Linked DNA regions of Homo sapiens. The protein of the gene in region 4 interacts with the protein of the main gene of each other region in a pairwise test. Each region holds a gene or a part of one and is shown on either strand. Other genes may lie near its edges. The genes, in order: SLAIN1, PLEKHN1, GARIN6 and PDLIM7.

Region 1 (7,815 bases), on a different chromosome or scaffold from region 4:
ATGTATGTTCAATGAAAGGCAAGTGTTAAAAAAAACTGATGTGTATATGTTTGTATATTGATTGTTGTAATTATATTTTTTTATCTTGAAGGAGCTGCAGAGTATTAACAGGGTGAATTCTGAGTCACGGTAATAAATTGGGGACAAGGAAGATAATTTTTGTGACCTTATACCTACATCTATGTTTTAGTTTTTTTACAATGAGCATGTAAAACTTGTAGTTTTAAATATTTTTAAAATAAGGTACTATATACCCACTCCAGTTGTTTCTTAATAAACACAGGAAATAAAAATAAGTTGCCATCCTGCAAACATATCAGGGAACCAAATGAACAGCACTCTTATTTCTGAGACCACACTACTGGGACACTATAGTCTGCAGTGATAAAGGAACAGAGTGCTTTGCAAGCATTAACAAGTGGGTTAAACTTTAAAAATTAAACCCTGTTGATATTTTCTTCATCAAAAAGATTTGCAATGCAAACAAAATCTTGATGCATAAAATGTAATAATAAAATTATGTAAATCAGGTAACTTTAAAATTTTTAAGACCATCCCACTAAGATTAATGAACCCTCCTTGTTTTTCCACCTGGAATTCTAATCTCAGGCTTGTTTTCAGGAAGATTCTCTGCCATTTGTCTCTAGAAACATTTGTAAAGCATCAAGGCTTTGATTTATTCACCTGTGTACTTGTTGAATGAAATAGAACCTGCTTCAACTTTGATTTGCTTCAAACCATCTGAAGAGCTAATATACTAATACCACTAAGTGGGTGATTTCTGTTAAAGTTGATTATTTCAATGCTATTTGGACAAAATTAAACTATAAAAAGAAAGCCTAGGTACCAAAATGCTAGTAATAGGATGCTAACTAAATATGACAGAAATCCATTCAAAAGAAGGAAAGTTATTAATAGATTACTAATCTCATATTTACAAACAATATCACAATAAATTTTAAAATGCAAATATTTTAAGCATAAAACTGATCCCATATATCTCCCCATCAAAAATGTAAACAAGTTTCCTTCCACTGTTTACATACATACCATCAGAAAAGGCTAAGTAGGGACTAAATCAACCTAAAATAATTTGAAAGTGGCATAAGGGCTGAGAGTTATTAGTGAAATCTAAGGACCATCATGAGAGCATTTTCTAGTACCACATTCAGACTGAAACTGAGATTACTTTACAGAAATAAGGGTGCAGCTTTGAAAAAATGGCTTAAAGTTCCCAAAAGTGATGAGTTGTTTGATTTTTTTACACCTTGAGCTACCTGCACAGCTGCCAAAAAGTATTAAGGTGGATGATGAATACACCTCTGAAAGGCTTACTGTAACTCCATATATTTTGATTCTTGAATGAAACCAATTAACTAATGTACTTTACAGTTAGAGCTCTCACATGACAGAGTGTAAGGGAAAAGGAACACTGCAGTTCCCAATAGGAAACCAGTAAGGATCTCCATTTCCCAATCCCTTCCATGCAATCATGCAACAGAGACACAAAGAAAGTAATGAAAACACAGCTTGGAAAAACAGAAAGGGTCCTACATAAAAAGGACCTAAAGTAAAGAAGGACTACAGCAAGCCTCCCCCTAAAGTTACTCATTCATGGAAAGTAGACAGTGCTAACCAGATGTCAACTGAATAAATGCTGTCAGCCTCAAGTTTTCTGATAACCAAGCTAAAAAGTTTCCAAGAAATAAGAAAATAAGGCTTCTCTAATCTCACTTTTCTTCTACAGTTTAATTTAAAAAATTAAAGACAGTTCGTTGGTTCCTAGGTAAAAAAATAAATAAATAAATAAAAAAGTCCCTCCCACCTGTTCATTCCACTCCAAGAAAAGTCCTCTTTATTGGCACTATTTATGGGAAAGCCAGTGAGGTCACCCCATTTTAAAAAGCAAGTCAGTCTCTGAAAATAAGATTTCAATGAAAATGCAACGCAAAAGGGCACACGACTGCAAAATTCAAACAGCAAGAACGAACCTCTCTATAAAGAGAGATCCATCACTGCGCGGCTTCCGATGCCACCCGAGGAGGAAGAGCACGCAAATCCTGTCCAGCGTTCGTTTAAAACGAAAGAACAGTAACAGTCGCAGACAGAGGCCAACCCCTACCATCCCCCGTCATCCCTCCGAAAACACTGGGGAAAAGAGCAGCACTGAGCAAAAAGACAAGATGACATGGATTTTGCACTTAATGCTAACGAGGAGCTTGGGACCCAACAATCAGCAAATAGCAGAACCCATGGCAGATGGGGGGAAGGGGGGGCCGGTTCATCCGCAGTCGGAGCGATTAGAAAACAGGTTTCTGCCTTCATGAGAAGCCTCATCGTGGGAAGTGTCACCGCCTGGCTCAACACCTGCTGGGTCGGCCCCTCCGGGAGCCGCGGGGAGTCACCCCGGCTGCCGCGAGGGGACCCCCGTCCGCCCCCCGCCCCCGCTCCCCGGTGCCCGAAGCCCCCGAGGCCAGGGTCTCGGGGAAGGAGCGGAGCCAGGCAGTACCAGGTGTAGTCGTCCTCGTCCCGCCAGGCGGCTACGCTCTCCAGATCCAGCAATTCCACCTCGTCCAGCAGCGTGGGGGGCGGCGAGGGCGGCGCTGCAGCTGCCCCTGGCGGCGTCCCCGCGCCCCCCGGCTCCGGCCCGCCACCGCCCGCGCCGAAGAAGCCTGCTGCCGGCTTGAAGTAGACGAAGGGCGCCTCGGGTGGCTGCGCCAGGCTGCAAAGCAGGGAGGGCGCGGGGCTAGGCAGGCAGAAGGTGCCCGGGAACGCGGGGCTGGAGCCACCGCCGCTGCCACTACCGCTGCCGCCACCGCCCCCCGCGCCCAGCGCCAGCCCGAGCCCCAGGCCCCCTGAGGCCGCGGCGGTGGCCGTGGCGGCCGGGGGGCTCCGAGGACCCAAAGGCTGCAGGCCAGCGGGGGGCGGCGCGGCGGGCGGCGGCGGCGGCAGCAGCAGCAGGTGCGGGGCGGCGGCCGCGCTGGCCGCTCGACTCCGCAGCTGCTCGTTCTGCTTCTCCAGCTTGCGCACCAGCTCCTGCAGCTTCTTCACCTCCAGCTCCGCGTTCACCACCGGCCCGGAGCCCGCTCCAGAGCTGACCCCTGCCGAGGCGCATTTCACCTGCTCCGCCATCATCGTGGGCCCCGAGGGCGCCGCGGCCGCCGGGGAGTGCGCGCCGCCGCGCCGGCTCCTCGGGCCACGGGGAGGCTACGGCTCCTTCCCTGTCGCCCCGGCCTGGGGGGCCGACCACGCGCGGGCTGAGGCCGAGCCGGCGGTTCGCATCAGCACCGGGCCCTCGCCTCCGGCCGCGGCAGCCACCACCGAGCTGATCTGCACATGCTCAGTGCGTCCCTCCAGTCCCCTGGGCGTCGCGGCGGCTCCGGGTTTTAGCCGCGGCCCCGGAGCGGGGCGGGGCAAGAGCGCCGAGGGGGCGGGTGGGGGGGGGGGGGCGGAGAACCGTGGGGAAGCCCACCCAGGGGGCGGGGCCGGCAGCCCGGGTTGGGGCCGGGGAGCCGCACCCACCCTCGCTACCTAATCCCAGGGGCCTGATTGGACCTGGCCTGAACTTTCCCGCCACAAGCACCTCCTCCTGCCGCTTGGTGGGACAGTGAACTGCGCGGGTCTCTGAGGCGGTTGCGGGGACCAGGGGGTTCCCAAAGAAGCAGCTGCAGGTGCTGGCCCTCGAGTAGTGCACCACCGGCCCGCTGGTTTGCTCCCTTCCCAGCTCTCTGTTAGGCTCCGTGACAGCACTTAATAGCCACTGGCTAACGAATCCTATAGAAAACTTAAAGGCTGGGGATCGTTATTCTAAAAACCGAAAAGTGGAGATAGGGGGAACAGAAAGGCTTTGGGACCATGCCACTCATGTTCTCATTGGTAATAGAGAAGCAAAATGGTGGGAGACAGGAGACCGAGAAGAAAGAGAAGAAAGCCCTCTCTCTAAGAGGTAGAGTGGCCAGCTGCTAAGGAGACAAGTGTTTACTTATTTATTCTAAAATAGTCAAATTTGAACTGTTACCATCATTGTTTGTCACAATAAAAGAAGAACTGCTTTTTTTTTCATACTATGTATATTCATGCATTCCCCAAACAAAAGATCTTTGAGCACCTACTCTGTGCCAGGAACCATTCTAAGAGCTCGTGATGCGGGCAATGAGTACAATAGGCAAAAATGGTTATGGGGAGAAATATGAGTAAAATTGTTTAGTGCTCCTTCTATTAAATAATGTGTAAGTTATTAAAGTCAGACTTGCTGGTGGGAAAGCAGAAAACAGAAAACCTCAGAATTCTACCCAATACACTTTAATCTCACCTGCAAACCTGCTATTTCTTACCACTTGGAAAACGAGCAAATCTGCTTTTTTTAAAAGAGGCTTTTAAGCAGAAGAATTTAATCGAGTTGTGTTCAATGAATACTGACTGACTTAGCATTTTGAGTGTTTAACACAATCAGAGGAAAACCTGAGATTATATTATGAGAAAAATCTACACCACTGGTTCTCATCCTCAGATGATATACTATCTAGTGAAAGTCCTTGCTAGGGACTTTACATACCAATCTTTGTGACAATGTACCTCATTTCTCTGGAGCTGCTAACACATCGTATCTATTGGTTTCAGATATGGTTTTGTGTCTTCCTGCTCAGAAACACTTGTATCTTCTCAGTTGTTAATCTACATCTCTAGCTTCTGTGTGCAGGGTGGATGTTCTGCATTTAACATGCTTGGTGAGCGCTTCCATAAATTAGCTAAATGCGTGTGATGACTCCCTTAACCTTCCCTGTGTCCCAGCTTGCTAGCCCACCACCTAACCACCTGTATCACCCATCACCTTTCCAAGTTTCGGTATATCTTTAGGATTTTTTTTGGTTATTACCAAAACCTGGAGAAATGGAGTAATACTACTGAAAGTCCTAAGTAAAGAATCTATTGAAGGATTTTTCCCGCATGCTCAGTGGCAGATGCGGGTAGCAGTATCTCCCTGCAACACAAAGAAAGGGAGACGACAGACACAATGAGAACAAAGAGCTGCTGGGTCCCAGACTAGAGAAAGAAATTGGGAATAGGCACATAATAGTGAAGACAACAAGAATTAAGATGTAAAGAAAAGCCGTCATTTTACTGCACAATTTATATACACTCTAAAGAAGGAGAGAAACAGACAGCCCTTTCCTCCTTCATTTACCCAATATGGTCTATATACATCCAACAAGCAGTAGCCAAGCTTTTGAACCCTGTTTTCTAAGTAATAATTATCATAAAAATCTTTGTTCTTTAAAAAGAAAGCATGCATTGAAATTTAGACATAGAAAAGAGATGAAACATTGTTTTACAATTCTAGTCTGCATTATTCTTCTGAAAAGACAAATTTGCCCTTTTCCTACCTATTTTAAAAGTGTGAAATTATTAATGTCTAAAGAAAATTTAAATCATGTTTTTGCTTTCTCTTAATGCCCCTCTTTTTTTCCCTTCTGTGAATTGCACATGTACACACACCAGAGACACTCAAAATGCACACTGATTTCAAGTTGGTGTCCCCAGGATGCCAGTCTCTTTAACGTATAATTAAAGAGGTTGATGGTGTCAAGGTTTTAATTAAGCAGTCTTGATTTTTTTATTTTGATGCAAATTAGTAAGCTTTGTGTTTTGAAAGAAATTGCATGCTGTAGTTGCTCAATTGTAATGTTTTGATTTTAAATAAAATATGTAGGTGATTTCAGAGGTTTACAAAGAGGATATGAAAAATGAAAGTGCATGTCTCATTTAAAAGTTTATGCTTTAAGCATACATTTGATACACCATAAGGTAATGTGAAACATCCACATATCACACATTCAAAACTGGATAAAGAAATGCATGTTTCTCTCTATTCATTACACTTCAGAACTATCATCACTCTAGTGAATTTTAAGAAAGCACATGAACTTATTTTAATTTGTATTTTTCACATATATTTCTAATACTGTGTATGAACATTAAATAGATCCAGCAACAGAATCGCAAAAGCACCCATAGGTTCTTGAGTATATAAAAATAATTCTCAAAGGAAATCTAGAAACAGCCTGTTATTATCCCAGTTTTACAGATGAGCTTACAAGGTTATGTTACTTGCCCAAGTTCACTCATGAAAATGATGGTTCTTAGCAGTTGCTAGTGGGCCAGAGTAAAATTTCTCCTAGAGTAAGATTCATACGTTTAAATTTTGCGATCAGTGCAGCTGACATACCCTAATATGAGCACTACATTAATTCAAGTTTATAGATCCAATTACTGCAAGAAAAGAAAATAACCTAATGTGTTAAACTAAGATCAAAGATCCCCAACTGTGTTTTCAAGTTGATTTGAACCACAATGTTTGAGTGATTCTTATGCCTCTTCATGGAGATTCCTGTTTATACATACAGAATAGACTCGAACACTGCAGGTCCCACTGCCCATATGCAGTGCCTAGCACAGTGTCTAGCACATGGCAAATAAATACTCAAAAAATTTTAAAAGATAAATGAATCAATAAATAAATCCCCAAGTTCTAGCTGGAATTTAGACAAACACATAATTAGCTATTTCCATAAACCTCATTTATCATATGGTAACAACATAGGAAGACTAGAGGCTTTCTGCAGATCCCATAATAATCAATTATTTTACATCTGACCCAGTTAATAGCCAGGAAAATACTTGCTGCACCTAATGTGTTGCATTTTAATGTAAGGAGATTATGGAAAGAGAAAACAGAAATACAAGAAGTCAGAATTTATTCAAAAAAAATCCCTGTGTGAGTTGCTCCATTCTAACCCCACCCAACTCTACTACTCATATTCATGCCCAAAACCCACATAATTATACCCTATAAGGTCACATGTGGTGGTAGTTATAATAACAATAATAGTAATAATAATCATTCTGTTGATTTGTCAAGCTATACCTGTAAGAGCCCTTTAGAATAAACACTCATTACATGTCTATTATTTTCAAGTGCTAGATGAGTTTTGAGAAGTGAGTAAGAAAACAGTGTCTCCACCATCAAGACCTTATCTAGTTGGAGAAAGAAGCATATAAGCAACTAACTATAACACAAAAATTAGTGTTATGTATCATGAAGAAAATATAAATAAACAGCATAGGGAGTGATCAAGAAGGAGCAATTTTGGCTAAAAATTTTGGGAAGGCCTCAAGTAGAAAGCAAACATTATTTCAACCAGGCACGGAGGCATGTGTCTGTAGTCCCAGCTACTCAGGGGGCTGAGAAAGGAGGATTGCTAGAGCCCAGGAATTCAAGGCCAGCTTGGGGAACATAGTGATATTTCATCTCTAAAAGAAAGAGAGAGAGAGGAGGAAAGGCAGGCAGGCGAGGGAGGAAGAGAAGGCAAGAAGAAAGAAAGAGAAGGGAAGAAAAGAAAGGAAGGAAGGAGAAAGAGGGAGGGAGGAAGGAAGGAAGGAAGGAAGGAAGGAAGGAAGGAAGGAAGGAAGGAAGGAATCCATTATCTCATTTGGATCTCCTCATTTAAGAGAATTCATTATCTCATTTGGTTCTCCTCATCAAGCTGTTAGCTAAGGCATCAGGGCAAGTATTGTGATATTCATTTATCAGTCTTCATGGGATGAAAACTAGGAAATAGTACCCAGCTCTAATTCTTAATCTATATCCTTTCCTCTGTGGTCGATTTGTTTTGTTTTTATGAATAGCTCACACATGTATTACTGCCATTAGAAAGAAACTTTCTACAATTTATCTTAGAAGCTATCTAGTGCTTACTAAATGCCAAGAATTGCTGTAAGCCCTTTACATTTATTAAGTTATTAAATTGTCAAACA
Region 2 (7,324 bases), on a different chromosome or scaffold from region 4:
GGGCCATCTCTGAGTGCAGCCGTGGGGCTGAAGGTGAGCTTCTGTCCTAGGGGAGCTCCGGGGGCCTGTCCCATCATTTGCCTTCAGCCAGAATGACATGTGCCTGGTGTTTGTAGCTTTTGCCACCTGGGCTGTGAGGACGTCAGATCCGCATACCCCAGACGCCTGGAAAACAGGTTTGGGTGCCTGGGGGCAGAGGGAGCTGCGCCTAGAAGCCAGACCGAGGGGCGCTGGCAGGACGAGGGGTGCACGGGGGCCCCGGGGCTCACCCCTGACCTGCTCCCCCCAGGCTGAGCTGCGGCCCTGGCCGCACCGACCTTGCCCGCCCTTTGAGGGCTGGGTCTTGCGGGCAGACGGTGCCGACAGCCAGGCTGGCCCTCAGAAGAGCCTGTGCTTCTCTTGCAGCCTTGCTGGCCAACGTCGGCACCATCTCTGCCATCCGCTACTTCCGCCGGCAGGTGGGGCAAGGGCGCCGCAGCCACAGCCCCAGCCCCAGCTCCTAGGAGCCAGGCCCGGGCCAGGGAGATGCAGGATGAGGAGACGACCACAGGCGCCCAGGGCAGGACGAGGTGCCGCCCTCGCCCGGGCCCTCTGACCCCTCTCTTCTACCGCGTCCAGGAGGGGGGCGTGTCCTGGTGCTGCTCCCTCCGACTCACCTGAGGATCCAGCCAGTGACCACGGCCACTCCCCACGCCTGGGAGGGAGGTGCTAAAGTCTGGGTGGGTGGAGGGCAGGCAGGTGGCTGGGTAGGAGGGTGGCCAGATTCACAGATGAGAACACAGGGCATTCGGTTAATTTCAGACAGGCAATAGTGGGGAGGTCATTTTACTAAGAAGTTGTTGTTTATCTGAAATCAAATGCAACCGCACCCTGCGTTTCTTCTGGGGTGCAGGGGGAGCTGAGTGGCAGGACAGGACTTGGACCTCGGAGGGGTCTGAGCAGCAAGACACTCCGGCTGGAGCTCTGGGCAGAGGCAGGGGAGAGGACACAGGGTGGCCTCAAAGAGGGGATGGGCAGCCTCCTCACAGGTGGGCTGGGCTGGCAAGGGCTCCAAGGCCCATCACTCTTGATCCTCAAAGGACTGTGGCCAAGGCCTCTGCGGGCTCTGGCCTGAGACAGCGAAGGCTCTGCCTGCCCCTCCCCAGTGCAGCAGCCCCTGCAGGGTGGGGGTCTGTGGCAGAGCCGCGAGCCCCTCCCCGGGAGCCCTGGGTGCAGGTGCAGAGGGAGAATTCGGTGGCCTCAGATGGAGGGCTGGGCTCCTGGGGTTGTCCCGGGGGCTCCTGTGGGGCAGCTGGGGACCCACAGCCAAGAGGAGTCAGAGATGAGGTGGGAAGGTCGGTGAGGGGCCCGAGGTGGCAGAGGAAGGGGGCTGCCTGGCTGGGTGCTGGGTGGGGGTCCTCAAGACTGTGGGAGACCCTGGCTGCTGAGCAGAGAACACATGGATGCAGCACCAATAAAATTCTATCTTTTCTTTTTCTTTCTTCCTTTTCTTATTCTCTCTCTCTCTTTCCTTCTCTTCTCTTCTCTCTTCTCTTCTTTTCTCTCTTCTCCTCTCTCTCTTCTCTCTTTTTTCTTTCTCGTCCGGTGGTGTCAACGTCTCCCGTGCTGCCCTGTGGTGCGCGCCAGGCCACACAAGGACCCACCCACCCTCCTCCTCGGGGCACCCTGGCTTGTGCTCCTCACACCTTGCTGACCTGTGACCCTCATGCCCTCTGACCTCACATACTCTGACCCTGCTGACCTTTCTCTGTCCTCCGACCTTCACGCCCGTGCTGCCCTCCCACTCCCAGCGAGTCTCCTCCCTGACTCCTGGCGGGCTGAGCTGAGGGCCGACCCTGTGGACGGCCAGGACCTCCCTGACCTGTGACCCAGCCTCGCTGGCCAGGGCATCCTTTGGATGGGGCCCCTCCCACCCTTCCCTGCCCCAGCTGCTGGCACCAAGGAACAGGAGCTGAGGGACGGGCTCTGAACTCAGGGCCCCAGAGACTCCCCCCATCACACTGGGTTCAGACCCTGACTTGTAATTTGAAGTGGGTTAGAGGGGCAGGTACCCTGGAGCTTGGCGAGGGTGGTCCTGAGAACCCACCTCACCGCGGCCATCAGATCCACTGCACAAGCCCCCCACTGGCCTCAGGCCCTCCAAGCTGGGGGCACTTCTGGTGGGAGGAAGACAAAGTCTCGTCCCAGAGGTGGTCGTAGCCGGGGTCCCGGCTCCTCCTGGGGGACCGACCATCTGGTAGGGAAGGCAGAGATGTGTCAGCCTGTGGGAGGCAACAGGCACTCACCTCAGGAGGCAGGATCCTTACTCACCTGTCAGAGGCAGCCAGGGTTCGGGCGAACCTTCCCTGGCAGAGGAGACCTGGAACCCCAAACCGCAAGTCTGAGAGCCGGGCACAGCCCCAGGCAGGGAGCTTGGAGGCGGCCTGTCACTGTGCAGCCCCCCATGTCCCCCTGCTCTCCCTCCCCAGTCCCATCTCCCCAACTCCCTACTGGCCCCCCTGGCCTCCATCTGCCCCCGTCCTCCTGTTTCCCTCCCTGCTCCCTCAGAGTCCCAAGAGGCCCCACACCAGACCCCCGGCCAGCCCGGAGCCCGGGGCACACGGGCGTGGGGGCTGCTACTCACAAGCTGAGGGGCGTCTGGGGGCTGCGGCCCCCCATCCTTGGCTGAGCCCCGGTGTCTCTGAGCGGCTCTGGACTGCAGGGCTCCCTTCTTGGAGAGCAAGTAGGGGCCAGCGGGGCCGGAGGAGCAGGAGCGAGGGTCAGAGGCAGGCACAGACACAGGCACCGAGGGGAGTGGGCTCGAGGGCGTGGGTCCACGTGCACTCTGCATGGCACTGAGGAACTGCAGGGAGAGCCAGGGCTGGGGCCTGGGTGGCAGCCAGGGGCCCCCAGAACCTCAACCTCCCATCAGAGCCTGAACAGACCTCAGGCTTGGGGCAGCCCCAGACCCCAGGGTGAGACGCACGGTCTAGACCTCCCCAGCCTCAGGCTGCAGGCACCTCCCACCCTTTCTGTCACCCAGCAGGGGCCTGACCTCCTCCAGGCCCCGGACATCTGTGACCCTGCGGTGGGAGGTGGCGGGTGGTGTGTAGGGGTCGGCATAGAGGGGCGAGTGTGATGTTTCCGAAGTGTGGTCAGGGGCATCTGGGCTGCTCTCCAGGCTCAGCCTGTGCAGCTGCAGGGCAGAGGTGGGAGAAATGGGCTTCTCGGCTAGAAACAGCCTAGGCCACCCCTTCTCTGTGCAAGAGGCCTCTGGGTGGCTCCAGGACAACTGGGCCCAGAGACAGAGACCAGTGGTGCGGAACGGTGGGAACCAGGCCAGGGGCTGTGTGGGTGTGCTGGGCCCACCTGGGTCAGGTCCAGGTGCAGTGGGGTGACAGGGCCGCGGCCCTCTGCCCGGGCCTTGCTCCCGGGTGACCGGCTGCTGCCACTGCGTCTCAGCTCGGTCCTCCGTCGGCCAATGCTGGCACGGTCAGAGTTGGCCTGGTCCTGTGGGGACCACAAACCTTCCAGGAAGAGCCCTTTGGCCCCTCTCCCGTGCAACTCTCTGAGGCTGCAAGGGGCTCCCTCCAGTCTGAGTTCCCCTGAGGAACCAGGGTCCCCAACACACACCTACCCGACAGCCTTCTGCCCCACTTTCGTCTGCCACCCCGTAAGCGCTCACCGGTGTGTGCTGGGAGGAGCAGCCCACGGTGGATGGCACTGAGGACTCAGGCAGGGAGTGGCTGGTGCGGGTGGAGGGGGGCGCCAAGCACCCCGAGTCCCAGCTGGTCTGTCCGCCTGAGGAGAGTGAGCCTCGGCCACTGCCCATAACCTGGATGGGCAGTGAGTGGGGGTGAGTGAGGGCTGGACCCCCTCCCCACCCGCCCCTGCCTGGACCCACCGTGCTGTCCCCCCTTTTATCTTTTTGGGACGAAGTCTTATTCTGTCGCCCAGGCTGCAGTACAGTGGCACGATCTCGGCTCACTGCAACCTCCGCCTCCTGGTCAAGCGATTCTCCTGCCTCAGCCTCCTGAGTAGCTGGGGTTACAGGGATGTACCGCCATGCCCGGCTAATTTTTTTGTATTTTTAATAGAGACAGGGTTTCTCCACGTCGGTCAGGCTGATCTCGAACCCCTGACCTCAAATGATCCGCCCGCCTCAGCCTCCTAAAATGCTGGGATTACAGGCGTGCGCCACCACGCCCGGTCTGCTGCCCCCTTTTTACCACTGCCCAGGACCTGGGCTGTGGGGCCTATTGACCCCTCACCTGCGACCCTGGGAAGCTCTCGGCACCAGGCAGCGGCGGGGCCCCCTCCCTGTGGGTGACAGCGCGAAGGCACAGCAGCCAGTGACCGTAGTCCTCGTAGCTGGCGCACACCACGCGGATGGTGTTGATGAGGGGGCCTGGCATACAGATGCTGTGAGGGGCTGGCGGGGGGGTGCACCCCTCAGCGCCCCCACTAAAGAGTCGGGCGTCCCCCAGGCTCCCGCCCCACCATGGCCTGGCCAGGCGGGAGGCAGAACCAGGGTCAGGGCCCTACCTTCAATCAGGAAGGAGCGGATCTGCTTCTCCTTCTCCTCCAGGTTGATGTGGACGGCACGGAGTGGGAGCTCCCCCTGCGGAGCAGAGATTGAGGGCCAGGCCTTTGTAGGGGCAGCCCCGGGGCCCCGCCTGGCCTCATCCCACCCTCTTGCCCTCCAGAGCTTGGCTGGGTACTTGGAGAGCTGGGCACCGAGGCCACCACCCTGAGGGAGGCCAGTGGGTCCCATGTCTCCTGGGGCTACCACCAACCCTGGCGCGGGGGCCTTCGCCGGCTAGGGGCAGACACACAAAGCCACAGGACTGGCCTCTTGGGGTCCCCAGAGAAGAAGTTGGGCCGGGTGAACCATGGGGAGGGCCCTGTGTTTGTTCCTCAGTGACTGAAGGTTACCGTGAGTGCACACCCCCTTCCCGGAGCCCGCCCTGGAGGACACACGCACACGCACGTGTGCACACACACGCCTCACGGGCAGGCACACACAAGGGAGTCCCCGGGAGGGGCTCTCAGCCCCATGCTGCCCGCCCCAGGGTGACGGTCAAGAACCTCAGGGTGAGAACCTCAGGGCGGGCAGGGGCTCCTCCATGTCACAGCGGAGACCAGACTGACCAGGACCGCGGGCTGGGTGGGCAGGGCCCTGCGCTCTGTCTCAACAAGCCCCGAAATACAGGTTCCTCCTGCATGGCTGCCCCCTCCCACCCCCACACAGCTGCCTCCCTGGGGCGGGCCCACAGTGGGGAGGGGCCCACCTTGAAGCAAAGCCCGTCCAGCTCCTCGGAGAAAATGGCCAAGGACGTTGGGTACAGGACCAAGAGCCGGTCCCACTGCTCCTGGGTGGGTGGGGGTGGGGTCAGGCGATGAGGGAACTGAGCTGCTGTTGCACCGCCCTGCCCACCACCATGCACCCCTCCCATCCCCCTACAGCCCCACGCACCTCCCACCCACCTGTGCGGGCAGGTGCTGCAGCTTGACCCTCGAGGCACAGACAGCACTGCCGCCGGGTTCGTGCCCTGACGCCGTCCGCAGCCGGGTTAGACGGCGCTGCAAAGTCCAGGGGAGTTCGTCTCCGCAGGACCCCTGTGAGGAGGAGGTCAGAGCCGGCTGCGAGGATCAGGGTGGGGAGGGGGGTGGGGTCCCCGGCACTGACCTGTGGGGGTGCCGAGTGGCAGCGCCGCGGCCCCCCGAGGAGGGCCGTCTGCTTCTCCAGGTGGTAAAGCCAGCGGTCCAGCTCGGCCCGGCTGGGGCAGAGCACCAGGAGGGGTGCGGGCAGTGGGCCTGCGGGCAGGGCAGAGAGGGCACACACATACACACACGTGCTCCGCAGCCACAGGGCAGGCCCCTCTCCAAGTCCTGGGTCAGGAGTGCCTCTGGGGGCCCGGGAAGCATCCCAAACACCTGTGATCTGGAAGGCGTGCTCTCGGGACCCCTCGAGCGGGCAGACACTCAGCTCCGTCAGCGGTAACAGCCCCTGCCAGGCACAGGGTAGGAGGAGCTTCAGGGATCCATGGAGGGAAGGGCGGCCATGGCCCCACCCCATTGCCCACCGCCTCACCTGAAATGTGAGTCCTTCCGAGCCGTGGGCCTGGAAGTACAGGTGGGCGGGGAATAGCTCCAGGTAGCAGTCGCTGACATCCTGCGCGGGGAGCAGGGTCGTCAGTGCGGAGTCTGGGGAGCCCCAGGCTGATGGGGATGCTGCACCCTTAGCGTGCTCCACCCAGCCCGGCCCCCACCTGGCTGTGCTGGAACCGCAGCTGGACCTTGGCGTAATGCACAACTTTTCCCAGGTTCCTCACAGGCACCCTCCGCCGCCCCTTCTTGAACACACTCAGGAATGGCTGCTCCAGGTTTTCTCGCTGGTTCTCCAGGTCCAGGATGTCCTAGGAGGAGTAGAGCTCAGGGGAGGGGGCCTCCCCTGGGCCCCCCACCCCCTCCGCTCGCATCCACACAGCTACAGGACTATAGCATGGTCTGCCTGTGCATAGCCACACAACACATATGTGAAGAACAGCCCCCCACAGGCACAGAACCTGTGCACAGCCACACAACACATACGTGAAGAACAGCCCCCCACAGGCACAGAACCTGTGCACAGCCACACAACACATACGTGAAGAACAGCCCCCCACAGGCACAGAACCTGTGCACAGCCACACAACACATACGTGAAGAACAGCCCCCCACAGGCACAGAACCTGCACACTCAGCCTTTCCACAGGAAAACAGTCACGGCAGAATTTACACACACGTGCATACATATATGCATACATGCATATTCGTGTACACGTACACGCACACACACCCGATACGTGCACATGCAGGCAACATGCATGCATCCATATATGCGCACACATACACATGTATAAATGCATACACGCACACATGCATACACACACAATAGACACATACATGCCACACAATACAGACACAGATGCATACACACGGGAACACACATACGCACTTATACACACATGTACACACACGCACACATATGCATGGATACACACGTGCACACATACACAGTTGCACATACACAGATATGCACACACGTGCATACATGCATACATATCCACACGCAAATACACCCATACACATGTATACACATACACACGTGCACATACACACGTGCACACATACACATGCACACCTATACACACATGCACACACATGCATGCACACATGCACACTGCATACATGCATACATTTCCACACACACACAAATACACCAACACACACGTATACATACACCTGTGCATATACACACAGATGTGTGCACACATATACACGTGCAAACACATGCACACAT
Region 3 (7,527 bases), on a different chromosome or scaffold from region 4:
CACAACATCAACTTAAACTCAAAATCTCAAAAACTCAAAAGTCCCAAATTTCCTCATATAAATCAAGCATGAGTCAGACGCATCTGTGAATCTGTGAAACTGGAATAAAAAGTTATTCGCTCCTAAAATTCAATGATATGACAAGTGTAGCGAAACAATTATAGATATCCCCAACCAAAGAGAGAGAAATGAAAAATAAAAAGTGAGTCAACAGTCCGAAGCAATTCAGAACTGCAACTGGGCAAACTCCATTAGGTTTCAAGCCCTGGGAATAATCCTTTGGAGTTCTCAGCTCTACCCTCTCGGGCCTCAGTCCCATCCTCTGAGTCCTCCTTTCTATTCCATAAAGGTTAACTTATGTTTGCAAACTCAGTAGTTTCATAAGCCTATTTCCTGCCTGCAGAATTTCAGGAATCCAACAGCCTTCTTTCATTTTATCCTCTGTCCCTTTAAGTCCAAGCTACCAAAGTCTCCGCTAATAAACCATTCATGAAAACACTGTGGGTCTCCCAGGTATGTCACAAGAATTTCCTGGATAATCCCAACTCTGAATCCCATCTCAGCGTAATTCATCTCATCATAATTCAGATCTGCTCAATCTCTTCAAAGAGCCCTCTGTGTGGTTGAATAATCTCAGTTTTTGATCCTCCTGAGGCACTAGAAACAAGTTATCTAGCCATGCTTTCAGCTTTCTCTCTAAGTACACTTCTTGACAGTGAATCTAAAAATTTCAGTGTTTTTTGCAATCTGGATAGATTGAGAATGTTCCAACCATCAAGTCCTGGTTTCTTTGAGTTTAAATGTTCTTCTCACAATTTATCTCTTTCCTCCTCCCACATTTCAGTATAGGCAACAAGAGGAAACCAGGCCATACCTCCAACACTTTATCTAGAAATCTACTCAGCAAAATATCCAAGTTCATCACCTACTAGATCTGCTTTGCACATAACCATAGAATATAATTCCTCTAGACTATCTGCTATTATATAGCAAGTATCTCCTTTCCTCCAGTTTTCAATAACATGTTTCCTATTTATTTCTGAGTCCTTATCAGAAGCACCTTTAACATTCATATGTTTATTAACATTCTCTCTACAATGATTTAGGTATTCTCTAAGATCATACAAGTTCTCTCTACCATTTCCCCCGCTTTCTTCTGAACCCTCACAGTAGTGACTTTAACATCCTCGTTTGTATAAACATTATGTTTATGACAATTAGGTAATCTCTAAGAAAATACAGGTTTTCTCTACCATATCACTTCTTTCTGAGCCCTTATTAGCGGCATCTTTAATGTCCATATTTCTGTTCAAGGCAATCTAAGCTCTTTACATCATGCTCCTCAAAATTCTTCTAGCTTCTACCCAGTGCCCAATTCCAAAGCCATTTCTATATTTTTATGCACCTGTTACAGCAGCACTCCACTTCCAGGTACCAAAATGTGGAATAGTTTCCTAGGGCTACCATTACAAATTACCACAAACTTAGTTGCTTATAACAACACAAATTTATTCTCTCATAGTTCTCAAGGTCAAAGTCTAAAATGATTCTCTCTGGGCTAAAGTTAAGGTATTGGCAGGGCTATCTCCTTCTGGAGGCTCACAGGGAGAATCCACTTCCTGTTTTTTCAGCTTCCAGAGGCCTCTTGCATTCCTTTGGTCCATGGCTGCACCACTCTGACCTCTACTTCCATCATCACATATCTTCTGACTCTGACCCTGCTGCCTTTCTCTTACAAAGACCACTGTGATTACACCGGACCCCCAACGTAATCCAGATAACACCCCCAATTCAGATCCTAAACTGAATCACATCTGCAAAGTTCCTCTGCCACATAAGGTAATATATTCACAGGTTGTGAAGATTATAATGTAAATATCTTTTGGGGGAATTATTCTGTAAACCACAGCCATGTTCATTATTAACTGATTTCTGTTTAAAATACTTAACCCATATTTTCAATTACATAGTTTTAAGCACTAACACCGCTGATTGCCTATCTTACTGAACTAATATCTTGCCATTTCCTCATTTCAAACGTTGGTTCTTTTAAAAGTTTTGGGAAGACGAAATTTAGCAAGAGAATAAAATCATATATTGAATTAAACAATTCCCAGAGCAGTTATACGAATAATATCTCGATTCATTGTTATGGTTCAGAGTATCTCCAAAGTATGTAGTAGTTTTGTTGTTGGGAGAGAGGGGGAAAGCTAAAGCCCTATCACAAAACCGTAACTATTCTGGAGTTGAAAGATAGCTCAGGGGTCATCTCCATTTCAAGGCTGAGAAAAATAAGGCCCAGAGAGGTTAAATTATTAACCCAATGACATAAACTCCAACAGAGAGGAGAGAGTATATAAATTTATTTTAATATATCTAGTGACTAACTATATAGAAATCTGATTTAACAGCAACCACACAGAAAGCTGCTGCATTTTCATAAAAGGAATTTCTTAATCTCAAGTTCAGGTAGTTTTTTATTTAGCTATCTGAGCTTCTCAAGTCTTGAGGCAAATGCTAAAAAGGTAGTTTTCTAAACAGCTAGAGGAATTTCAGACAAACCCCATCAAATTCATAAAAATAGGTATTTGCCAGAATGCTACATAGGATGGTTATCAAGCCAAATGAAAGAGGTTCCACCGTTGTCAGTCTACTGACTGGTGTGGAAAATCCAAACATCTATAGGCTCTATAAGTAATGTAGTTTCTGGCTTCCTTGGAGACCAGCGCTCTAATGGAACTCTAAGACAAATATCTTGTCATATATGTGTATAGCAAAAAAGTACTTTTAAGAAAATCAGTAAAAAAAAAAAAAAAAGGCACTTAAATTAAATTTTGCTGTGTCCAATACTACCAATCCTGTTATCCCTTATGAAAAACATCAGAACCACTTGGACACTTTTAAAACGTTATTTTACTAAATGTGTATTTGGTTTCTTGGTTTTGCCAATTACAAGATAAGTAACATAGACTTGAAGTGGAAGTTAAGATATAAAGACTTTAGGAAGGGCAGTAAAAAGTGCTATTGATATGTGAATAGGCATCTCAATAAATAAAATAAAAATACTCCAAGTATCCAAAATAATCAAACATTTCAATATGAAAGGAAGAAATTATGTTTGCATTGACTTATGCAACTAAAGACTCAAGTGGGCTGGGCACGGTGGCTCACACCTGTAATCCCAGCACTTGGGGGGCCAAGGCGGGCGAATCACGAGGTCAGGAGTTCGAGACCAGCCTGAGCAATATGGTGAAACCCCATCTCTACTAAAAATACAAATTAGCCGGGCGTGGTGGCACACGCCTGTAGTCCCAGCTACTAGGAAAGCTGATGCAGGAGAATCACTTGAACCCAGGAGGCGGAGGTTGCAGTGAGCCAAGATCACGCCACTGATTCCAGCCCGGGTGACAGAGTGAGACTCCATCTCAAAAAAAAAAAAAAAAAAAAAAAAAAAGACTCAACTATGGCTATGGCTCTGTGTGTGTGTGTGTGTTTGTGTTCACATGGGTTATCATGTGTACTGTCATTTCAATAAAGATATTATAATCTTATTGAATTGAAAATATTTGCAATACCTAGCAAAATTCTTTACAGCTTTTTTTTTTCTCAATACAATCTGATGGTAAAGAATAGAGCATAAATGTGATGTTTAAGGCTCTTTTCATTCCATAGCCAGGGTATGAATGTCTAGGTAAAACTCAAAAATTGCATCAACAGTTTGAGGGTGAGTCAAAACATAAAATTTATCATGGCTATAGAAACAGAAAAAAAAAAATACATTGCCAATAAAATAGTTATTTCCCCTGGTAACAGAAATAAATTTCCTAATAAAAATAGAAGTTAAAAAGAAAATGAAAATTATACCTAAGCACTTTAAACATTTCACTGAACATAATTCCATATCCACAAACACATACACGTGGTCTTACATAAATTGAATCTCACCTATACTATGAGTTTGAAATCAGTTTTTCTCTTATTCTTTAAGAAAAAAAAAGGTCAGGGATATCTTTTCATGTCAATAAATAGGAAAACTACGTAATCATTTTTAGGGCTGCAGACTGTCCCGTCACAGAAGCTCCATAATTTATTTAAGCAATCCCCTATTGTAAGACACTAATGCTGTTTATAATTTTTTACTCTACAACAAACATTGATAAACATCCTGTACCAATCTGTTTACCAATTTATCCAATTCTCTCTTTAAAATAAATGTCTACAACTAGAGGAGCTGGATAAATGAGTATACAGAGAATGTATATTAAACTCTTGCCTTGCACAGAAAATTTACCTCTAACCCTTTTGAAAGCAATTTGCCAGAATGCATTAAGGTCCCTAGATGGTAGGTTGGTGGCGGGGTAGTGGTCTGCTGAGCTGTGGAGGGCGGTGGGGCTGAGGGTGGGGTGGAGAGGGCGGTGCCCCTGCTCTGAGGCAGGGACTACTGGGTGACAGAGACAAAGGGGTGTGTGATGGGGCAGGTCACAATGGGTAGGGGAGGATAAAAGTGGTCCTGCGGGGTGGTTTAGCAGCAGTGGATGGTTCAGGTTGGGAAGAAGAGCAGTGGGATTGCCAGTTAAGGTTGTGGAATCAAAGAGCAAAGGCTGTTGTGAAGTGGAATATCAGGCTCAAATGGAGGTCCCTCCCGAATGAGCACTGACACCTGTGTGCCCGGACATCCACGAGGGCCCCAACACCTGTGCTCCTGACAGCTCCATGCACTAAGCAGGGCACAGTCTGGATCCAGGGGACTGACTGTCTCTGGCATTGAGCGGTTGGTAATCAATACCCCACCCTCCCTGTTCTCAGTCACTTGGGGACAAAAAAGAAAGCCTGCAGAACACGACTGCTGGCCCACCTGCCAGAGTAGCCAAGGAAACAGGATGCCCGCTAAAGCATGTTAAGGAAGGTGTGGAGCAGCTGCTGGGAACTGTCTTGATTTAAAGGAAGACATGGAGGACTGCTGTATGCTACCGTATTACACGGCCCAAAGCAGCCCCGCAATGGGCATGTTTAACACCTCCATGGGGAAGCTGCAGCGGCAACTGTACAAAGGCGAGTATACTATATTCAGGTATGCACCCATGTTTGAGAGCGACTTTATCCAGATCAGCAAAAGAGGAGAAGTGATTGACGTGCACAACCGTGCCCGAATGGTAACAATGGGCATCGTTCGCACCAGCCCCTGCCTCACACTACCTGATGTCATGCTGCTGGCCCGACCAGCTGCTGTCTGTGACAATGCCAGGTGTGGTCCTGCCACCCAGAAAAGAGAAAGTCCGCCTGCAGAGATCTTAGAACTAACCAGGCTGCTTCCCTTGATGTTTGTGAAAATAACCATCCACAACAGCGTAAAAAAACAGCTCCACCTGAAGCTTGCCACGGGCCGCTCTTTTTATCTTCAGCTGTGTCCTCCATCGGATGCAAGTGAAGACCTTTTTGTTCACTGGGAAAACCTTGTTTACATCCTGAGACCACCAGTGGAGGCTTACAGTGATACCAGGGCTATCCTAGCTGGGAACACATTGGACTCATCTGTGTTGGAGGAAGTGCAGAGGAGCCCAGTGGTGAGTCTATGCAGAGACTAGATGGGGCCTGGATGCTTTGGGGGAGAGCAGGTACAGGTCCTGTAAAGCCTTTGGTGCTGCAGCTCACCTGGGAAATGCATTGCATTTGGAAGGTCTGAAGGCCAAATGAGCTTCCATTTGGAGGCCATGGTACATTGAGGAGGTTCCTAGTGCTTCTCCAGGGTTCTCCAAGCCTGAATTTCAGAGATTTCTTAGCTGTCAGCAACTCTTCATTTTATATCCACAGCTGTTCATTTTATATCAATGTTGTAATGCTGTCCAAAGCATCCTGACCAGTCTATTCTGAAACACATACTATGACCTAGGCAGGCTGATATGTTGTAGGACGTGTCTCCCTGCAATTGCCACTTATATACATTGGTGGCAACACAACATGTTTGTGTACTTGTGCAATAATTTCTTTTTGTTGTTTACCTATAGGAAGAGAAAGGAGATCTTGCTGGTCTCACTGTCTTTGCTTATTTGTTCTCTCCCTAGGGATATGCCATGAAGTTTTGTGAAGAGAAGGAGCAATTCAGAATCAGTAGACTTCACATGAATGCTGAAATGTTTGGGTCCACCTATTGTGATTATACAATAGAGATATGAATCCAACATACCTCCCACATATACTACGTTCAAGAGTTCACACACCCCTGCAGTCATAAAACCTATAGTGCCTGATGAAGGGGCAGGGTAGCAACAGCAGTAGTGATGACAGTAAGCACCACCACAGGTACCATGGATGTGGCTGCAACCAAGTCTGCAGACTCAGGAGAGAAACACAGCACTGGCAAAAGCAGCCTTCAGAGGTCCAGGAGGAAGTATAGCCAGCATGGCTATTAGTGGGTGCTTCCATGTCTTAATCTTGTTATAGCAAGGGCTGCATGCACATTCTTGTCCTAAAAGGGTACTTCAAGCATATCAGTAAGTGCTACTGGCCTCTCCCTAGAGAGCAGTATGAATGTGGTGGCTACAGGAGCAGAGAGATACTGAGAAGGCTGTTGCATTGACAGTATCTCTCTGCTACTCAAAGGCTGACTCTCTGCTACTCAGCATTGGGAGTCAGTTATCTCAACTCTGCAGGATGAGGCCACATGCGTGAATGGGATGGAAGCCAGAGGGTCTCTACCTAGCTGGATTGACTCTGCAGTAATAACCTCAAAGCCCAGTACTACACATGGTGCAGAGGTGGACATCTCACCTAAGACTGTGGAGGGGAACAATGTGATTCACCATAATAAAATCCATCAACTCAAATTATCTGCTCTAATAACATATGCTCTATTGACAGGAAGGGTAGCAATAAAACTAATGGCAATTTATGATCAGGCTCTGAAAACTATCTTTAACTTTCCCTTAACTTTATATTTTTTAAATAAATTAATAGATGACAGAATAAAATGTTGAAGATTACTCTCAGATATGATCCTACATTAGGAGAATTATTCTAAAACTGTTTTCCAAAATATAAAATGAGAACCCAGGAATACACACACACAGACTCTCTCTCTCTCTCCTCTCTCTCTCCAGGTTTGAATCACAGCATTGCCACACATTAACTGTGAGTTTCAGTAGATTGTTTCTTTAAATGGTCACCTTGAGACCATACATGTATAATATCTGGAACATAGTAGGCACTGTGTAAATGGTAGTGTTGAGAAACAAATTCTGAGTTTAATCATACTTTCCAGAAAGGGCTTAATTTTCCCAGTCTCTTCATTCTTGATTTCCTTTCTTAAATCTTAATTAACTGCTTTGCAATTGTCCCATAAAAGCTCTATTTACAGTAAATCTTCTCAGTATCTTCCAAGAATTTTAATCCCCTGACGCTATTTAGAATTCTAAATTTTCATGAATTTGTAGAAATTTCAATCTAGTTACAATGGAAAGATAATTGCAAAGCACTCATCTTTTACCTGGTTCTCTCCAATTTTAGTATTCTTGGAGATAGAAAAATAAA
Region 4 (7,440 bases):
CACCATGAGTGGTAAGTAAGCAGGTGCTGCCAACAGTCAAGCAACAAGGCGGAGCCTGGGTCCACCAGATCAGTCCCAGACCACCCACCCCGGGATGTTTTTAGATGAGAAATAAGCCACCATTATTTTGAGTTTCCCACTGCTCGTGGTCAAGGTAAACCTCACTAATATGAACATCACCACACAGAGCTCTCTGGCTACTCCTGGCAGCCCTGGCTCTGGATCCAGAAATGAGGAGGACGCATGAGACAGAGCAGCTTCAGCGTGTCAAGTTGGCCGTTCTGTCATTTCACCAGGGCAGGGAGAGCCCAAAGTGGGAGTCAGGAGGGCCCAGGGCTTCTCCTGGCTTGGTCCTCCTGCTCTTTGCAGCCTTGGGCGGTTTCTGAGCAGGAACATGGTCATTTGTTAAGAGCATCCTGACTAATGCAGGGTGAGGCCAGTACAGCAGCCCATTTATTACGCTGGTAAGGACCCGGAGGGCTCACTCGGGGAGAGACCTGGACTGTGGGTTTCCCAGCAGCCCTCGTTCCCACTGACAGGCTTGGGACCACCTCCCCGCCAGCCAGCCCTACTCACGCCTGTAATCTTCTTCTTGCACTTGGCACAGCTGGGTGCATAGCGCACGTCATAGCATGGTGGGCAGAAGATGGCGCCCTTCTCCTCAAAGAAGCCACCCTCTTCCAGGACCTTCCCACACTGGCTACACACAAACTCCTCCGGGTGGTACGCGTGGCCCAGCGCCACCAGGTAGCGGCCCCTGCAGGGAGGCGAGAGCGGTCAGAGGGAGCACACGCAGAGAGGTGGGGGTCTTGGCCCCCTTCAGGTTGACTGACCACCCACCAGGAGGCCTTGGGAGGGACAGTTCATTCTCCCCATTTTCCACATAGGATAGAAGACAGGCTTGGGAAGTGACCGTGGCAGCCGTGAAGCTTACAGAGCCAGTCCGCCACACTGAACTGCTGGTGACAGGAGAGGCAGCTTTAGAGCAGGGAGGACCCCGGGAGGAAGGGCTGACGACTGGAGCCTCATAAAAGCTGAGCCGCCCCTGGGCAAACCCTGGAGCTGCCCTGTCCTGCTGGCCTGCCTGTTCTACCTGGCAAGAGCTGATAGAGTCGGCTGGGCACAGTGGCTCACACCTGTAGTCCCAGCACTTTGGGAGGCCAAGGCAGGCCTGAGATCACCTGAGGTGAGGAGTTTGAGACCAGCCTGGCCAACATGGTAAAACCCCGTCTCTACTAAAAATACAAAATTAGCCAGGCATGGTGGCGGGTGCCTGTAATCCCAGCTACTCAGGAGGCTGAGGCAGGAGAATCTCTTGAACCCAGGAGGCAGAGGTTGCAGTGAGCCGAGATCGCGCCACTGCACGCCAACGTGGGCAACACAGTGAGACTCTGTTTCAAAAAAAAAAAAAAAAGAGCTGACAGAGATGAGAGCAGGCCAGGCCTGCGAATTAGGAAGGCTCTAGAATCCGGCACGCTGATGCTGGGGGGTGTTTGATGCTGCTTGGCCCCACGGGGCAGTGCACAGAGGGAGTGGCTCCAGGCCTGTATGCTCTGAGAGCAGAGGGAGACAGAGAGCAGGAGGGAGGGGCAGACGCGCTGGGAGGGGGCAGGCCCCTCTTTGCCCAGAGAGCAGCAAAGGTAGGGGTGCAGCTTCAGCCTATGGTTGGCCCTTCGGCTATTTCGCCACGGCAGATGCTGCTAGCAGTTGTTGTGGGTGGGCTGGGGTAGGTAGCGTGGGATTAAGAATGGGAGGACCCAGCCCAGGTCCCTACTCCTACTCCAGCTGAGAACTGAATCCTTATTCCCCCCAGTCGCAGCTGAGGCAAGACAGGTGGGCAGACAGGTGGGGCTGGGCTGCAGGATGGGAAAGCCAGGGTCGGACAGGAACAGGCCACCCACCGGATGACCTTGTGGCACTGGTGACACACGGGAGTCTTGCCGTTGTTGCTGCCCCCTCCTGGCACCCCTCCGGCAGCTGCCTGCACAATGGAGGTGCGGCTCTGCAGCGGCGTGGGCGTGGCCGGCTGGCTGTGCCGGGTCAGCACTGTGCTCGTTTTGTCCGGGGCATAGCGCTCGGCAAACGCAGGGTCCACAGCCCAGGGCGGGCGGCTGGTAGGGCTGGGGGCGGTAGGGCCTGCCGGGGAAAGTGACTCTAAAGGGGTGCCCAGGGACCCCAAAGGACGGGGGTGGAGCCCCAGGCAGCTGAGAGAAGCCCACCACCCCCATGCCCCTGGAGGCTGCCCACCCTTGCCCAGGCCCGAGCCCACTCCCTCTCACCAGGCCAGGGCTCCTGGGGTGTAGATGAGGCTGGGGCTGGGGCTTCTGTCCTGGGCACCTGGCTGCAAGATCTGCCATTCAAGGCCCTGCATGGCTGAGCTTCCTGACATGGCCCCACCCCCCAACCTGGGTCCTGCTGGCCCCACGGGAGATGACTGGGGGCGTGGAAACTGCCGAGTTGGATTCCAGGTCCCACTGGGGTAGGGATGGGAAGGGCAGCTTCTCCTAGCAATGTCCAGTTAGCTGGTGTGCGGTCTCTAGCTGGGAGACGAGGCAGGGCTCCCGCTTCTGAGGCAGCTCCTGGGGTTCCCCTCATGCCAGGAAGCCATCTGTGATGGCAGGGCAGGGCCCCTTTGCCAGGTACCCCCTCCCACTGAAAACGAGGACGGCAGGGCCCAAACAGTCCGAACCACGAAACACCCCCACACCCCAAATGCAAACCAGGTCCACAAAGATAGAAGACAGGCAGAGCAAGCAGGGCTGAGAATGTTTATTCCATGCCCAAGGCAGCACAGACCTGGCAGACAGCAGTACCACAGGGCAAAGAGGGAAGGCAGTGTCAGATGAACCCAGGTGGGCGGCCAGGGCCAGGCCAGCAGGAGGCTCAGGCCAGGGGCACGAAAGGGGGGGTGAGGTAGGCAGAAGCTGGAGGCACTAAGGGGGTGCCCTGGGCAGGAGGAACAGAAAGAGGGAGGCAGAGAGGGCAGCCGGCTGGAGAGGGCCGGGCTACGACTGCACGTTGAGCACGTGGGCAGAGCGCTGGTGGTGCCAGTCCCGGAGGCGGGTGTAGCGTGGGCTCTGCAGCTCCAGGACATACTTTTCCCTGAGGGGCAGAGAGAGAGGGAGGAAGAAGTGGAAGGAAGGAGAGATGGAAGGGAGGCAGGGAGGGAGGAGGGAAGGAAGGAGGGAGGGAAGAAATGAAAGAAGGAAGGAAGGAGGAAGGGAAGGAAGGAAGGAAGGAAGGAAGGAAGGAAGGAAGGAAGGAAGGAAGGAAGGGAGAATTGAGAGCCCCAGCTGGGAGCCTCAGGAGTAGACACAGGGCAGTAGCTGGAATGGAAGAGGCAGGAGGTGGGAGAGGGGCTGGTGCCCGTCCCTGTACCTTGATTTCTTCAGGTGCTCCTCATCCGGGTCTTGCACTGAGAGGGCAGAGGCAGGCATTGACCAAAAAAGACACAGGGTCAGGGATCACGCCTGGGCTGGGGGCGAGGAAAGTACCCCCTGCCCTGGGCTGGCACTTACTGAACTCGGTGCCTGTGAGGTGGGCAAGGATGCGGAAGGAACGCGACTGGCCTGTCCCCGGCCGCGGCCGCCAGTCCTCTGTGTTCTCCATCAGCCGCTGCTTGCTGGCATCTGGGACCAGCGGTCGGAGCGGCTGTCTGTGGGGAGGGTGTGGCTCAGAACCCCACACTGGGGGTGGGCGGTGGGGGCAGCCCCTCCCAGGATTTGGTGCATGTGGGTTTGGGTTACAGTGATGGGAGGGAGTGGGTAAGGGTGAGGCCAGGAGCCCTGCTGGGCGGGTAGGTGAGAGGACAGGAGGGCGAAGTGGAGAGGAGGGCAGCCAGGGTGGGGAGGGGCCGCCACCCAGAGTGCCAAAAGGAAGAAGAAAGGCACAGGCAGAGGGGGGCTCACTGACTTGTCAGGGGTCTGCACCTGTGAAGGAAATAAGACAGACAGACAGATAAAGGGACAAAGGGACAGACACAGGAGAGGAAGAAAGACGGGGAGGGGTCAGAACAGCCGGGGACAAGGCGGCACTGAGTGTCTGGGGCTCAGCTGGCCCGACACCACAACCCAACCCCCAGCCGCCAGCAGGGGGCGCGGCGTCATTCAGAGACCCCTCCCCAGGGCGGTGCCCTGCAAGGCGCCACAGCCTCGGGAGGGGCCCTGTGCCTGCAGCCCCACCCCGGCCGCCAGGGGGCGCTGCCGCACGGTTCCGCCGGGCTGGGGCGCAGCACAGACTGAGCAGCAGCGGGCAGCGGGCGTGGGGCCACAGTGGGCCTGATGGCGTGGGCGCGGGCGGGCAGGGGCCGACGTACCCATTCTGCTGCGGGGCGCTGTCAGCGGGCGGGGGCGCCCCAAAGGGCCGGGCCGTCTTGTTGAGGGAGACGCTGGGTGCAAAGGTGTACCGCGGAGGGTCCGCGGCGGGGGCGGAGGCCTGGGCAGAGACACAGCCGGGCAGGGCGGGCGGGCAGGGTAAGGTGGGGGCCTGGGTGGAAGTGGGGCGCCTGCAGCAGAGGACAGCGGCAGCTCCAGCCCCCCACCCCCACCCCACCCCCTACATCTATTTGGAGGCTACGGGGAGAGGACGACTCAGGTTTCAAGGGGCCCATTTGGGAGTGGCGATCTCAGTCCACGCAGGACCGAGGGCTGACCGAGTGCGGGCGAGCACGCAGCGCCGGCGGCGGGAGGCAGCAGGCGGACAGACAGGCGGACAGACAGGCGGACATGCGTGGTGCCAGGACCGTGCAGCAGCCCCTGGCTCAACTCCAGGGCCCTAGACCCGCCTTAGCTCCGGTTTCTGCCCTCCACTCCCGGCCAGGGATTGGGGTACCGAGAATGTGCCAGGAGGGCGAGCAGGCCTGGCCGTCCAAGCCCACACCGCCCACCGCCCGGATGTCCCGGCCAGCCTCGTACCTTCTGCGGTTTGCTCTGAACCGGCTGGGCCCTGGAGGAGAAGGAAAGCGTGACAGCGGGCCGGGCCCGCAGGGATCCCCACTGCCAGCGCGGGCGCACCCATCCATGTCCACCCGCATACCTGCTGAGGCCCAGGCTGAGGCGCTCCCCGCAGGCCCGGATCTTGTTCTGAGCTTCGATGTGTGTGAGGCTACCCGCATTCTCGCCATCGATGCTCAGCACCCAGTCACCCACGGCCACTCCGGCCTGCGCCGCTTTGCCCCCAGGAGTGAGCTGTGGAGAGAGAAGCAAAGTGACCGAGGCCCTGGACCCTGCAGACCCAAGCCAGGCTGACGGTGGTAACACTGCCCCACCCAAAGCTGTCCCACTTCCAGAACCCAGAGAGCTCTTCATTCAACATAGTTCTAGGCAGCTGCTGGACACTAAAGCAACCCAGGAGGTGGTGGCGCTCACCTGAGCTTCACAATTTCCCAGTCACACTGCTTATTTATTCACTGCCAGACCCTCTCCCTCAGGTGGTGCTCACCTGAGCTTCCCCAGTCACGATGCTTATCTATTCACCGCCACCACCCTCCCCCACAGTCCAGAAATTGCTATGATGTCCACAAACAGCCACGCTCAGGCTAAAGCCCAAGTGTTTCAGGAGGACCATTGCCTTTTGAGGCTCCTGCTGGCCTCCTGCCCAGGCCACTCCACCTACCAGATATGCCCTCTGGCCCATGCAGGGGGCAGCTTCCTCCCCGAAACCACCGGGGGCTCTTATGGACCTCTCACCCCCCAGCACCCTGTCGGGGGCCATCTATAGGGGTCTGCTGGGACCCTTTGAGAGCCAGGAACAGGCCCTGTTATCTCCCGGTTCCCTGTGAACACTGCCTGAATGGGACCTAAGTTGACAGCTGGGACTTCGTAGGCCATACATGGCTGTCACTCCCAAGCCCTCGACTGCCAATTTCCCCTGACCCCAATCCTTCAGGCTCTTGAGCTGGGAGTCCCTGGTTCCTGTGGCAATGAGTAGAGACAGTAGGCTGGGAGAAATGGCTGCCACCAGCATGAGCTGAGACCATCAGGAATGACTTTGAGGAAGCGGTGGGCCTCGGTAAAGGAGAATGGCGTGTGCTGCCTAGCGGGTGAGAGTTCACTTACGATGGCTTTGAATGCCAGGGGAAGGGACCAGGACTTGGCTTTGAAGGTAGAGGGGCTACTGGCAGTTTTAATGTCTGGGATTGGGTATCTCCCAGGCCCTGAGAGGGTGACCCTGATAAACCCCTTCCAGGCCTCTAGCCCAGCCCCAGCAACACAGGCAGGGCAGCTTGACTGGGTCCAAGCCTAAGGGACCACCCAGCCATCTGGCAAGAGGCCTGGCACTGCATCAAGTAGGCTTTTGTGAGGCAGTGCTGGAAGACAATTTCACTGGGTGGGGGGGATCTGGGGGGGTCCAGGCTGCCAGTGGCCCCAGGAGGCTCCTCAGGTGGGTCAGTGCACAGACTGAGCTGAGGCAGGGAGAGGGGAGGCAAGAGGTTTCAGAGAGATGTCAGAGGGCAGGGCAGCCAGGCACAGAGCTTGACAGCACTGGGAAAAGAAAGGCGAGCTGGGCTCAACATGACCTCTTGCTTGCGTAGGAGGTCAGAAGGCTAAGAGAGCTCGGCGGCCCCTTCCTCACTCGCTAGATAAGAAGACTTGCTTCAGTTTATTGAGCACCAACTATGCTACATATTGACACTGAATCTTCCAACAACCTTGTGGAGTAATCTGGGATTTTACCCATTTTGCACTTGCAAATGTACACAGAGAGGTTAAACAACTTGCCTCAAGTCACCCAGCTAGTAAGAGGCAGAGCCAGGAAGTGTCTCTGACCCTAAGGCTCCACCACTGTGGGCCACCTCTGCTGAGCATGGGGGCCCAACTGAGGGGTCAGCCCACCTGGAGACACCCTGAGCCACTCCCTCACCTTTAGTTCAATCCAACTAAATCAACCCCTTATACTGTGTATGGGGAAGTGACACCCCAGAGGGGAAGTGACTTACTCAAGGTCATGGTGAGTCAGTAGAAGGGAAACCTGGCCCAGCCACTCCCTGCCCACAGGGCTGGCTCCTGGGAGCTGTGGGCTGAGCCCGAGGTGGGGGTCTTGGGGTGCAGCTAGCTGGCTCCTGGAGAGGGGGTGGGGGGCGGGGACGGCTTCCCTTCCCAGAGTGAGGAGGGCAGGAAGCACAGAGGATGAGGGGTGTTCAGAGCGTGGGGAGGGCAGCAGGAGAGCAGAAGACAGCGCTGGGCGGGTGGCTGGAGAGAGGCAGGGAGGGGCTCAAGCCAGGGGCAGGGTAAGGCCAGAGGAACCAAGGAGGGAAAAAGCCAGGGGGCTGGACCCTGCATGAGGTGGGGGTGAGTCAGCCTGAGCAGCCCAGCCCCCCAGTCCCAGACGTTACCTCATCTCCCAGGCCTGGGCCCACAGCCAGCCCTTGCCCCTCCCACCTCCCTCCATTCTGGGGTCAGGGGAGGGGGAGGGGGCTGGCCTAACTCAGAAAAGCCCACC

Evidence for each region.
Region 1: the proteins of PDLIM7 (region 4) and SLAIN1 interact in binary tests that used the Homo sapiens proteins (3 or more experiments, as listed by UniProt).
Region 2: the proteins of PDLIM7 (region 4) and PLEKHN1 interact in binary tests that used the Homo sapiens proteins (3 or more experiments, as listed by UniProt).
Region 3: the proteins of PDLIM7 (region 4) and GARIN6 interact in binary tests that used the Homo sapiens proteins (3 or more experiments, as listed by UniProt).

The regions. Positions count from the first base shown.
Region 1 is NC_000013.11:77,693,234-77,701,048, reverse strand, and holds the start of SLAIN1 (SLAIN motif-containing protein 1), read right to left. Parts: upstream 3,363-7,815; 5' UTR 3,136-3,362; coding exon 2,510-3,135; intron 2,169-2,509; exon of another isoform or gene 2,126-2,168; coding exon of another isoform or gene 1,992-2,125; intron 1-1,991. UniProt on the Homo sapiens protein: Microtubule plus-end tracking protein that might be involved in the regulation of cytoplasmic microtubule dynamics, microtubule organization and microtubule elongation.
Region 2 is NC_000001.11:969,351-976,674, reverse strand, and holds the end of PLEKHN1 (pleckstrin homology domain-containing family N member 1), read right to left. Parts: intron 6,399-7,324; coding exon 6,252-6,398; intron 6,155-6,251; coding exon 6,074-6,154; intron 5,990-6,073; coding exon 5,917-5,989; coding exon of another isoform or gene 5,797-5,916; coding exon 5,669-5,796; intron 5,599-5,668; coding exon of another isoform or gene 5,563-5,598; coding exon 5,467-5,562; coding exon of another isoform or gene 5,456-5,466; intron 5,352-5,455; coding exon 5,271-5,351; intron 4,601-5,270; coding exon 4,525-4,600; intron 4,388-4,524; coding exon 4,251-4,387; intron 3,815-4,250; coding exon 3,665-3,814; intron 3,490-3,664; coding exon 3,349-3,489; intron 3,176-3,348; coding exon 3,035-3,175; intron 2,843-3,034; coding exon 2,624-2,842; intron 2,360-2,623; coding exon 2,311-2,359; intron 2,234-2,310; coding exon 2,100-2,233; 3' UTR 810-2,099; downstream 1-809. Other genes in the region: PERM1 (PGC-1 and ERR-induced regulator in muscle protein 1), read left to right, coding at 51-176, 406-503. UniProt on the Homo sapiens protein: Controls the stability of the leptin mRNA harboring an AU-rich element (ARE) in its 3' UTR, in cooperation with the RNA stabilizer ELAVL1.
Region 3 is NC_000012.12:99,643,226-99,650,752, forward strand, and holds GARIN6 (Golgi-associated RAB2 interactor protein 6), read left to right. Parts: upstream 1-4,527; 5' UTR 4,528-4,949; coding exon 4,950-5,564; intron 5,565-6,062; coding exon 6,063-6,173; 3' UTR 6,174-6,889; downstream 6,890-7,527.
Region 4 is NC_000005.10:177,487,492-177,494,931, forward strand, and holds part of PDLIM7 (PDZ and LIM domain protein 7), read right to left. Parts: intron 5,187-7,440; coding exon 5,035-5,186; intron 4,945-5,034; coding exon 4,914-4,944; intron 4,435-4,913; coding exon 4,316-4,434; intron 3,930-4,315; coding exon of another isoform or gene 3,913-3,929; intron 3,656-3,912; coding exon 3,519-3,655; intron 3,416-3,518; coding exon 3,379-3,415; intron 3,103-3,378; coding exon of another isoform or gene 3,006-3,102; exon of another isoform or gene 2,755-3,005; intron 2,541-2,754; exon of another isoform or gene 2,342-2,540; coding exon 2,280-2,341; intron 2,137-2,279; coding exon 1,902-2,136; intron 758-1,901; coding exon 577-757; intron 1-576. UniProt on the Homo sapiens protein: May function as a scaffold on which the coordinated assembly of proteins can occur. May play a role as an adapter that, via its PDZ domain, localizes LIM-binding proteins to actin filaments of both skeletal muscle and nonmuscle tissues.